Regions from separate parts of the Homo sapiens genome. Here region 2 is linked to region 1. A link means that fine-mapping ties the variant in region 1 to the expression of a gene that starts in the linked region. Tissue or cell type: skeletal muscle. Region 1 holds a variant in brackets; the other region holds the start of a gene. All regions are shown on one strand. Distances are from middle to middle.

The links. PIP is the estimated chance that this variant, and not a neighbour inherited with it, causes the effect.
Region 2: it holds the start of TARBP1, and the variant in region 1 is fine-mapped to the expression of TARBP1 in skeletal muscle (GTEx, PIP above 0.99).

The regions. Positions count from the first base shown.
Region 1 is chr1:234,440,109-234,445,402 of GRCh38, reverse strand. All of the region lies in intron 12 of TARBP1 (tRNA guanosine 2 -O-methyltransferase TARBP1), which reads left to right. Among named protein-coding and RNA genes, the nearest start is that of TARBP1, 36 kb to the left of the region's middle. The variant TG/G (reference allele first, on the strand shown) is at 3,339.
Region 2 is chr1:234,476,948-234,482,241 of GRCh38, reverse strand. TARBP1 (tRNA guanosine 2 -O-methyltransferase TARBP1) reads left to right here and starts at 3,063. Exons shown (of 30, transcript NM_005646.4): 1 at 3,063-4,069. The coding sequence starts at 3,139. RefSeq lists silencers at 2,947-3,136, 3,167-3,966.

The DNA of each region.
Region 1 (5,294 bases):
AGAGATAGAAATTTGGGAGCCATTAACATACAGGTGGTATTTAAAGTCATGAGTCTGAATGAGAATGTTAGGGGAGCAAGTGTAGACAGAGAAGGGGTCCAAGTACCTTGGGGACTTCAATGTCCAGAGGTTAGTGAGGTGAAGAGGAACAGCAGAGGGTACCTAGGGGAATTTATAGCCAGAGAAGAGGAAAACCAGGAAGCCAGCGAAGAACGTGTTTCCGGGAGGAGGGTGGGATCCCACACCAGAGGCTGTTGATGCCCTAACAGAAGGACTGGGAATTGACCATCCAATTTAGCAACATGGAAATCAGCGGCGACCTCAACGGAAGCAATTTGGGGCAGTAGTGGGGGCCACTCGGAGAGAAATGAAAATAGTGAGTAAAATAGCAAGTTTTTTATGTAGAGCAGCAGAGAAATGGGGCCGTTGGTGGTGAGGAACGAGAAGTTGTTTTTGTTTCCTTAAGAGGTGAATATAACCATGTTTATGTGCTGATGGAAATGATTTCATTGAGGGAAGGTTTGAAGACATAAAGGGGTGGTGTTTGCTGACTGGCATCCAAGCATAGGTGAGAGTGTATGGAATCCAGGGCACAAGTGGTTCTAGAAGGTTCTAGAAGGAGCACTGATAGAGAGAGGTAGGTGCAGGTAGGTGGGTGGATATAGGAGGTCGTAGAAGTTCTTTTCTAATTTATTCTGTTTTTTTTTTAAGGAAAGAGGAGATAGAGTGAGGGTGGGGATGGAAGTGTTGGCAGTGTGAGGACAGGGTATAAGCATCTGTCTGGGAAAGAGGCTTTGTGAGTGCTCTGAGGCAGTGCTGTAGGATTGCTGGGCTTGCTGAGCACGCCCTTGAGGTTGCGATCGTGAATTCACAGTGATGGTAGTCCAGACGGCTGTGTTTTCCTCCAGCCTGTGATGTGCAATACCACTTTACTGTGCCTAATCAGATGAGATTCAGGGATTGTCATTCTGCAGATACAGTTTTTCTAAAATGATGTTTCCATGATTATATGTTTAATCTGCAATAACTGTATAATGTTTACTTTTAAATTTGAGGAAACATACTTTTAGTTACAATATAGCTTCCCTTTCATTACACTGGGTTATATGAGCCTTCAGTATACTGCTTCTGTCCTCACTACTGGCTGAATTTGTCACTTTGGTGGGTCTGGTCTTTGCTGAGTCTCGCTTTTTTTGTGGGAGTAATCTCTTGTCTATTGGAACTTTTCTTCCTGACGTAGGTTTTTATACATAGTTAGTTTTATGCATAGATAGTTTTATACATAAAGTAAAATTTACATTTTCACTATATTTAAGTGTACAGTTCTGTGACATAGAAAGTACGTTCACACTGTTGTGCAGCCATCACCATCATCCATCTCCAATTTTCCTCTTCCTGAACTGGAACTCTGTACCTGTGAAACACTAATTCCCCATTTTCCTCTTTCCCCAGGCCCTGGCAATCACCATTCTACTTTCTGTCTCTATGAGTTTGACTCCTCTGGGTACCTCCTAGAAGTGGAATCATACAGCATTTGTCCTTTTGTGTCTGACTTATTTTTATTTCACTGAACACCATGTCTTCTGGGTCCATCCATGTTGTAGCATGTATCATGCTTTGATTCCTTTTAAAGGCCAAATAATATTCTGTTGTTTGGCTAGATTATAATTGGTTATCCATTCATCTGTTGATGAACAATTGGATTTTTTTCACCTTCTCTTTTGTGAATAATGCTGCTGTGAACATGGGTGTACAAATGTCTGAGTCCCTGCTTTCAATTCTCTTGGAAGTGGAATTTCTGCATCATATGGTAATTCTGTTTAATTTTTTGAGGAACTGCCATACACTTTTCCACAGTGGCTGTACCTTTTTACATTTTCACCAGTAGTGCACAAGGGTTCCAGTTTTTCCACATCCTCTCCAACACTCGTTAATGGGCTTTTAAAAATAATAGCCATCCTAATGGGTATAAAGTGCTACTTCATCATGATTTTGACTGTGATTGCTTTTTGACTAATTCTGGTACCACTTCTGTTGGGATTCAGTTTACTACTATACATTATATGAGGCATAGACTAGGAAACCAAACCATAATTTTTTTTTTTTTTTTTTGAGACGGAGTTTCGCTCTTGTTTCCCAGGCTGGAGTGCAATGGTGCGATCTTGGCTCACCGCAACCTTTGCCTCCCGGGTTCAAGTGATTGTCCTGCCTCAGCCTCCCGAGTAGCTGAGATTACAGGCATGCACCACCATGCCTGGCTAATTTTGTATTTTTATTAGAAACAGGGTTTCTGCATGTTGGTCAGGCTGGTCTCAAACTCCCAACCTTAGCTGATCCGCCTGCCTCGACCTCCCAAAGTGCTAGGATTACAGGCATGAGCCATTGTGCCCAGCCCCAAACCATAATTTTTATTCTGGCTTGAACTTTTGCCCACAGTTTGTATATTGTGACAGGGTGTTAAATTCAGAGATGTGGCAGTGACCAGGGAATGTGCCTTGAGGGTGAGATAGAGGCTGTTCTGTATTGCGGTAATTAAGAGGAGCCACTGGGGTAGGGATGATAATATTGGATACCTTGAAGGCAGCTACTTTTCTTCAAGTCTTTTTGTTCTCTCTTCTCCAAGGCCTAAGCTTTCCCTTGAAATCTCAAATTTATTTTAATTGAATGGGTTTGATTATATATGAGGAAAGTAAATCTATTTTATGCTATTAATGTAAGTTTGATATTTAAGGAGTTGACTATATATATAGGAGAAAGAAAAGGCAGAAAGAGTAGTATGGAATATGCAAGACAAGAGTATTCTGTTTTTCCCATATTCATTGGTTATAGTTTTTAATTTTTTAATAAAGGCTTTTACTTTCCAATCATTTGCTGGTGGCTTCTTGACCTGGCAAGTGACTCATGAGATACTCCAGAGGCTATATAATATAGCCCCTGGGTAACATGAAAATTTAAAATTAATTTTTAATGTATGTAATCTCTTAATGAACACTTCTCAGAGTGATAGATACAGCATTTTATGAAGTGTCTATTAAATCTTCTGCCAAGTTAGTCCTTTGTCAGATATGTGGTTTGCACATATTTTCTTTTTGTCTGCAGCTTATCTTTTCATTTTCTCAACAGTGTCTTTTGCAGAGCCAAAGTTTTTATTCTGATGAAATCCAGTTTATTTTTGTTTTGTTTTATGGATCGTGCAGTAGGTATTACGACTGAGAACTCTGCCTTAGCCCCAGGTCGTACAGGATTTTTCTCCTTCGTTTATTATTTTACTTTTAGACTTATGATATTTTTAGGGTTAATTTCTAAGGTGTAAGGTTTAGGTCAAGGTTAGTTTTTTT[TG/G]CCTTTGCTGGTGTAGTTGCACCAGCACCATTTGTTGGAGAGACTGAGTATCCTTTCTCTGTTGAATTGTTTTGTACTTTTGTCAAAAATTAATTGGCTGTGATGGAAACAATCCAAAGTAGATGGGTAGATGAATGGATAATATGTGGTTTATACATACTCAGCCATAAAAAGGAATGAAGTAGTAATACATGTTACAACGTGGATAAACCTTGAAAACATTATCTTAAGGGAAAGGTGATCACTAAAGACCACATATTATATGATCTCATTTAAATGAAATGTCCGGAATAGGCAAATCTCTAGAGACAGAAAATAGATTGGGGTTGCTTAGGGCAGGGAGAAAATAGGGGTTAAGGGCCCGATGATTTAAAGGGTATGAGGTTTCTCTTTGAGGTGATGAAATGTTCTAATATTGATTGTGGTGATAGTTGCACATATCTGTGACTGTACGAGAAACTATTGAATTAGATACCTTTAATGGGGGAATTGAATGCTCTGTGAATTCTATCCCAAAAAATTGTTGACAAATAATTAATTTGGCTGTATTTGTGTTGATGTAATTCTGGACTCTATTCTGTTCTTTTGATCTAAGTGTTTATTCCTTTGCCAATACCACAAGGTTTTGGTTACTGTAGTTTTATAATAAGTCTTAAAATAGGTAGTGTGGTTTTTGTCCAAAAATATTTTTAGCTATTCTAGTTCCTTTACCTTTCCATATAAATTATATCATCAACTTATATGTACCTACAAAAAAAAAGTCCTGCTGGGATCTTGACTGGAATTGCATTAAATGCATAGATCAGTTTGTGGAGAATTGCTTTCTTATGCTGAAACTTTTAATGCATGAATATGGTATTTCCTTACATTTATTTATTTAGAGACAGGATCTTACTTTGTCACCCAGGCTGGAGTACAGTGGTGCAATCTCAGCTCACTGCAGCCTCTACCTCCCATGTTCAAGCAATCCTGCTGCCTCAGCCCCCCAAGTAGCTGGGACTGCAGGTGCTCACCACCATGCCTGGTTAATCTTTGTATTTTTAGTAGAGATGGGGTTTTGCCGTGTTGTCCAGGCTGGTCTCAAACTCCTGACCTCAGGCGATCTGCCCACCTAAGCCTCCCAGAGTGCTGGGATTACAGGTATGAGCCACCACGCCTGGCCTGTCTCTGCATTTACTTAGGTTGTCTGTGATTTTTTTCATCAGTTTTACAGTTTTCAGCGTATAGATCTTACACAGGTTTTGTAAGATTTATAACTATTTCTTTTGAGGGGAAGCTGTTGTAAATGATAGTTTTAAAATTTCAATTTTTAACTGTGTGTTACTAGTATATAGAAATATGATTGATTTTGGTATGCTGACCTTGTATCCTGTAACCTTGCTGAAGGACGTAATTCTAGGAGTTGGTTTGTTTGAAGGTTCCTTGGGATTTTCTTTGTAGATAATCATGTCATCTGTGAATAGGGGCAGTAGAATTGTCTGTAGTATTCCCTTACCCTTTTAATGCCTGTCGGGTCTGTAGTGTAAGCTCTGTCTTTTTATTCCTAATAGTGATAATTTGTGTGTGTGTGTGTGCGTGCTTACTCATGTGCACTCTCTCTCTGTCTCTGTCTCTGGCTTGCTAGTGGTTTATCATTTTATTGACCTTTTCAAAGAACCAGCTTTTGGTTTCATTGATTTTTTTTTTATAGATTTTTTTTTTTGGTCAATTTCATTGATTTCTGTTGTTTGGTTCTTTCTGCTTGGGTTTGGTTTATTTTGCCTTTTTTTCCTTTTAGTGTTAAGGCAGAAACATAGATTGTTGATTTTAGACGTTTCTTGTTTTCTGAAATGACAGTGCTATTAATTTTCCTCCAAGTGTTGCTTTAACTATATCCCACAAATTTTGGCATGTTGCATTTTCATCTCAAAATATTTTCTAACTTTCCTTGAAGCTTTCTCTTTGACCCATGAATT
Region 2 (5,294 bases), 37 kb before region 1:
CCCTGGAAATATCACTATGGACAGGTCAGGAGGAAAAATAAGATGCTGAAAGAAAGGGAGAAGAAACAGCTGAGGAAGCAGAGAAAAGAAAGAACAGGACAAAGTCATCGATGAAAACCAGAGTGAGATAGTGTTTCAAGAAATAGGAAATACTCCACAGAGTCCATTCAGGTAAGAACGAAAAAGGGCAGCTCTGGCAATTAGGAATCGCTGCCCACATTGGTGAATCAGAAAAGTGGTGTTGCGGGAAATATTCCGGGAGAGAAGACAGTGCAAACATGTTGTGGGTAAGAAGGAGAGTTCCACATGCCTGACCTGGGGCAGAGAAGGGGGAGTCAGGCTGTGAGGCCAGCTGGCTTTTCCCCAATCCCAATAAGCCTTCAATGCTGTGCTCTGCAGTTAGGCTTTACTCTGAAGGCAACAGAGAATAAAACACATAGGCCAACTTGTTTTTTTGTTTTGTTTTGTTTTGTTTTGTTTTTTGGTATAAGTCATTTTTCAAGATTGAGGTAAACTTTCTTTTTTTTTTTTTTGAGACCAAGTCTCACTCTGTCTCCAGGCTGGAGTGCAGTGGTGTGATCTTGGCTCACTGCAACCTCTGCCTCCTGGGTTCAAGCAATTCTCCTGCCTCAGCCTCCCGAGTAGCTGGGATTACAGGCGTGCACCACCATGCCCAGCTAATTTTTTTGTATTTCAGTAGAGATGGGGTTTCACCATGTTGGCCAGGATGGTCTCAATCTCCTGACCTCATGATCCACCGGCCTCGGCCTCCCAAAGTGCTGGGATTACAGGTGTGAGCCACTGCGCCCGGCTGATTGAGGTAAACTTTCTGCAGAGCGAAATGCATAGATCTTAAGGGTTCAGTTCAAGGAGTCTTGACAAATGTGTAACAACACCCTGATCAACATAAAATATTTTCATCACCCCAGAAAGTTCCCTTGTGCCCAATTCTAGTCAAATCTCTACTCCCTATATGCAACTACTGTTCTCATTTCTATCCTTCAGATTACTTTTGTCTCTTCTTGGATTTCATATAAATGAAATCACGAGGATGTAAACGTTGTGACTGGCTTCCTTTGTTTAACATATTGTTTCTGAGACTTATCCATGTAAAGCGGATTAGCAATTCATTGTCTTATTGCTGGGAGCATTATTATATAGATAGATCACAATTTTTTATTCATTCTTCAATTTGATGCACATGTAGGTTGTTACCTAACACCTACTAGGTTGTTATAAGCTTTTGGCTATAACGAATAATGTTGTCAAAAACATTCTTCTGCAAGCTTTTTTTTTTGAAACATGTTTTCATTTATTTTAGGTAATTACCTGGGGGTGAAATCGCTGAATCATAAAGCAGCTATATTATAACTTTACGAGAAACAGTTTCTAAAGTGACTGTACCGTTTTCATGCCCACCAGTAATGTATGAGAATTCCAGTTGCTCCACACCCTTGGTCTTTGCCGTTTAGTGTTTTCGAGCTTTTACATGTTAGCCATTCTCATCAGTATGAAGTGGTACCTCATTGTGGGTTTAATTTGCATTTCTCTGATGACTAATGATGTTGAACACTTTTCCAAGTGCTTATCATTTGTGTATCTTCGTTTGTTAAGTGCTCAAGACATTTACCCATTTATATTTGTTAGATATATGTTGACAGAAACAATAGTTTTCTGCACATTTTATGTTGAAGGTAATTGATATTTACTGACATGTTAAAAGGGCTTAAAATAGAAACATTTATGCATTTTGTCAATGAAAAACGGAATGACTGAAATATGAAAAAAGTCTTGCCTGTGTAATGTCAGATAACCTTAAAGTCAGATAACTTTATATAAAAATAACTGTAAATTTAAATAACTAATTTTTGTCTTATCCATTATGTTATTATATGTCAAGCTCTTTGAAGTTGGGACCCTGTTTTCTCTATTGACTAAGAGGCAGATCTTTGTGTTTAGTAGCGAAGAAAACCCTATGTCACTGATCTAGTTTGTCTCAAATTGAGCCAGGAACCAAATCCACACCATGCATGCCGAGGTGAGGTTTTCTGTTTCTCTATTTAGCAATGGATGCTGTCAGAAATACAGAAAAGACAGACACAGGGACTATTTTTGAGTTTGCACATGGGAGCACATGCATTGTGCAGGAGGCTCTGCATCCTGGAGTCATCTTGGGCACTTGGCTGTGAGGGCTGGCGTGGGCATCTTGGTTTTAGCTGAATCCTAGCACATTGCTATAGGTACCTCTAAGGCAGGAGAATAGGGCCTGGAGGCAGGGAATCCAAAAACTCCCTAGAACCAAATCAGATAGAAACACTTCAGCTATGACAGGAAATATCCTCTTCATTTACATAGGGAGTACACCAAGTAAATAACTTTGTAACTTCATTTTATCCTCTTCAGTTACATAGTGTGTACACCAAGTAACCAATTGAAACCTCTATAGGTATTTAAACCCCAGAAAATTCTGTAACCAGCCCCCCTTGAGCGGCTTGCTTGGGTCTGCCCCCACCCTGTGGAGTGTACTTTTGCAATAAATCTCTGCTTTTGTGGCTTCATTCTGTCTTTGCTTTGTTTGTGCGCTTTGTCCAATTCTTGGACCTGGACACCCTCCACCGGTAACACTTCTCACTCCTGGCCTTACGTCTAAATCATTCTTGTGTTTTCATGACTTATTTTTAATGCAGATGTCCAGAACCAATTTCAGACCTACTGTGTCAGTCTCTTTGTGGATGGTGCCCATCATGCAACGTTTGGAAAATAATCTAAAGTGATTCTGCTGTGCACCTTCTGTGAACTGGTTTATGCTCACAGGCACGCCTGATTTAGGGTCCTGGGCAGACCAACCTCCAATCAGGAATCGATGAAGCTGGTGTAGATACTACATTAACTTTTAACGAAGGCCTCGTTTCTCCTAAAAATAAGAGACCAGGTGGGTTCTATCTAGGCAGGGTTGGTGGCAGGAACCCAAGGGAAGCTGAGCTGCACCAAGCCGGGCTGGGATCCCCCTCTCTGCGGCCGCGCGCCCGGCTCCGTCGGCGCACGCGCACGTAGGGGCCGGCCGGTCCTGTGCGCACGCATCGCACACGCCGGCGCCTTCCTTTGGGAGCCCGGGCCGGTGGCGCGGGCGCTCGGCAAATGGAGTGGGTGCTCGCGGAAGCGCTGCTCTCGCAGAGCCGGGACCCCCGGGCCCTGCTTGGGGCGCTGTGCCAAGGGGAGGCATCCGCGGAGCGCGTGGAGACGCTGCGCTTCCTTCTGCAGCGGCTCGAGGACGAGGAGGCGCGCGGCAGCGGGGGCGCAGGCGCGCTCCCGGAGGCGGCGCGCGAGGTGGCTGCAGGGTACCTCGTGCCACTGCTGCGGAGCCTGCGCGGACGCCCCGCGGGCGGCCCGGACCCCAGTCTGCAGCCTCGCCACCGCCGGCGCGTGCTGAGGGCGGCGGGCGCGGCCCTGCGCTCGTGCGTCCGCCTGGCCGGGCGTCCGCAGCTGGCGGCCGCGCTGGCTGAGGAGGCGCTGCGCGATCTGCTCGCCGGGTGGCGCGCGCCTGGCGCCGAGGCTGCCGTGGAAGTGCTAGCAGCCGTCGGGCCATGTTTGCGGCCCCGCGAGGACGGGCCGCTACTGGAGCGCGTGGCGGGGACCGCCGTCGCCCTGGCGCTGGGCGGGGGCGGGGACGGGGATGAGGCCGGGCCTGCCGAGGACGCGGCGGCGCTGGTGGCCGGGCGACTGCTGCCAGTGCTGGTCCAATGTGGCGGGGCGGCGCTGCGGGCCGTGTGGGGCGGGCTGGCCGCGCCTGGGGCGTCCCTGGGGTCCGGCCGCGTAGAGGAGAAGCTGCTGGTCCTGAGCGCCCTGGCCGAGAAGCTGTTGCCCGAGCCCGGCGGCGACCGCGCCCGCGGCGCGCGCGAGGCGGGCCCGGACGCCCGGCGCTGCTGGCGCTTCTGGAGGACGGTGCAGGCGGGGCTGGGCCAGGCGGACGCCCTGACGCGCAAGCGAGCGCGCTACCTGCTGCAGAGGGCGGTGGAGGTGTCGGCGGAGCTGGGGGCCGACTGCACCTGCGGGCCCCAGGAAGGAAACGGTACCTGCCTCTTTGCCCCCCAGCCTAGTGCTACCTACTTGGCTGCCCCAGAGGGGAGTCTTCCTGCTTCTAAAAACTAGCTTATCGGGGTCGTCACTCCGATCCATGCAGAATTTGGTTATTCCGCGTTGCTCCCCTAAAGCCTGAAAACCTTTGGAACCCCTTCTCGAGGGTGTTCTTTGAAGTCACAAATCACTGCGGTTGGGAACGTTCTAACCCAGAGCCGGTGGAATACAGCACCCCTGGAATAGTTTAGGAAGATAATGGAGCCCGTGCAAGATTTTACAGACCCAAATCTGCACTATATCATGGTAGATTCAACCCAATAGAAACGGTTGATATCTATCAAGTTGAAAGAAAAATTATTTGTTATTTATCTGTACTGACCAGTGAATTAGTGAATTGAGTGTTGAGTGTTAGAATTAAGCGTCATAGAGGCCATCACACTCTTCTGAAATTTCCCCTGGTAATTAGGAACAGGATTTACTAATATTTGTTAAACATGTTTCTTAAGTCGACCTTTTGAGTGTATTTTTGCCATTGATTTAATAGAATGAATCAGATTTTATTTTTTAACTGTTTGAGCTTTGCTCCCTACTATGTGCAAGAGTAATGAAACAGCAAGGCCTCCCTTCAAGTTGTTACGTTACTGTTGATTGGTTTGACTTCACTCATGTTAAATTTGGGTTTAAACTGTCAAGTACAAAGTAGATTGACTCAAAATTGTCTCAATAGAATATTTCTACTTTTTCAACGGTAGCTGACCATTTATTACAGGTAAAGGATTTTTGTTTGGCTGAAGTTATGAGGTTATATTTTCAAGTAATTTTAAAACATTAGAGAGTAAATATTTGAACAGTCCACAGATAGGTGTGATCATCCCTGAGAGTTTTCACTGGAAAACATTTTTTAAATCATCAAAAATTAAAACATTCATTTATTTACATGAGTCTGTTATTTTGCAGTTTTGTTTGTTTGTTTGTTTGTTTTATGGAGTTTCGGTCTTGTTGCCCAGGCTGGAATGCAATGGCACAATCTCCGCTCACCGCAACCTGCACTTCCCGGGTTCAAGCGGTTCTCCTGCCTCAGCCTCCAGAGTAGCTGGGATTACAGGCATGCGCCACCATGCCCCACTAATTTTGTATTTTTAATAGAGACGGGGTTTCACCGTGTTGGTCAGGCTGGCCTCAAACTCCTCACCTCAGGTGATCTGCCCGCCTTGGCC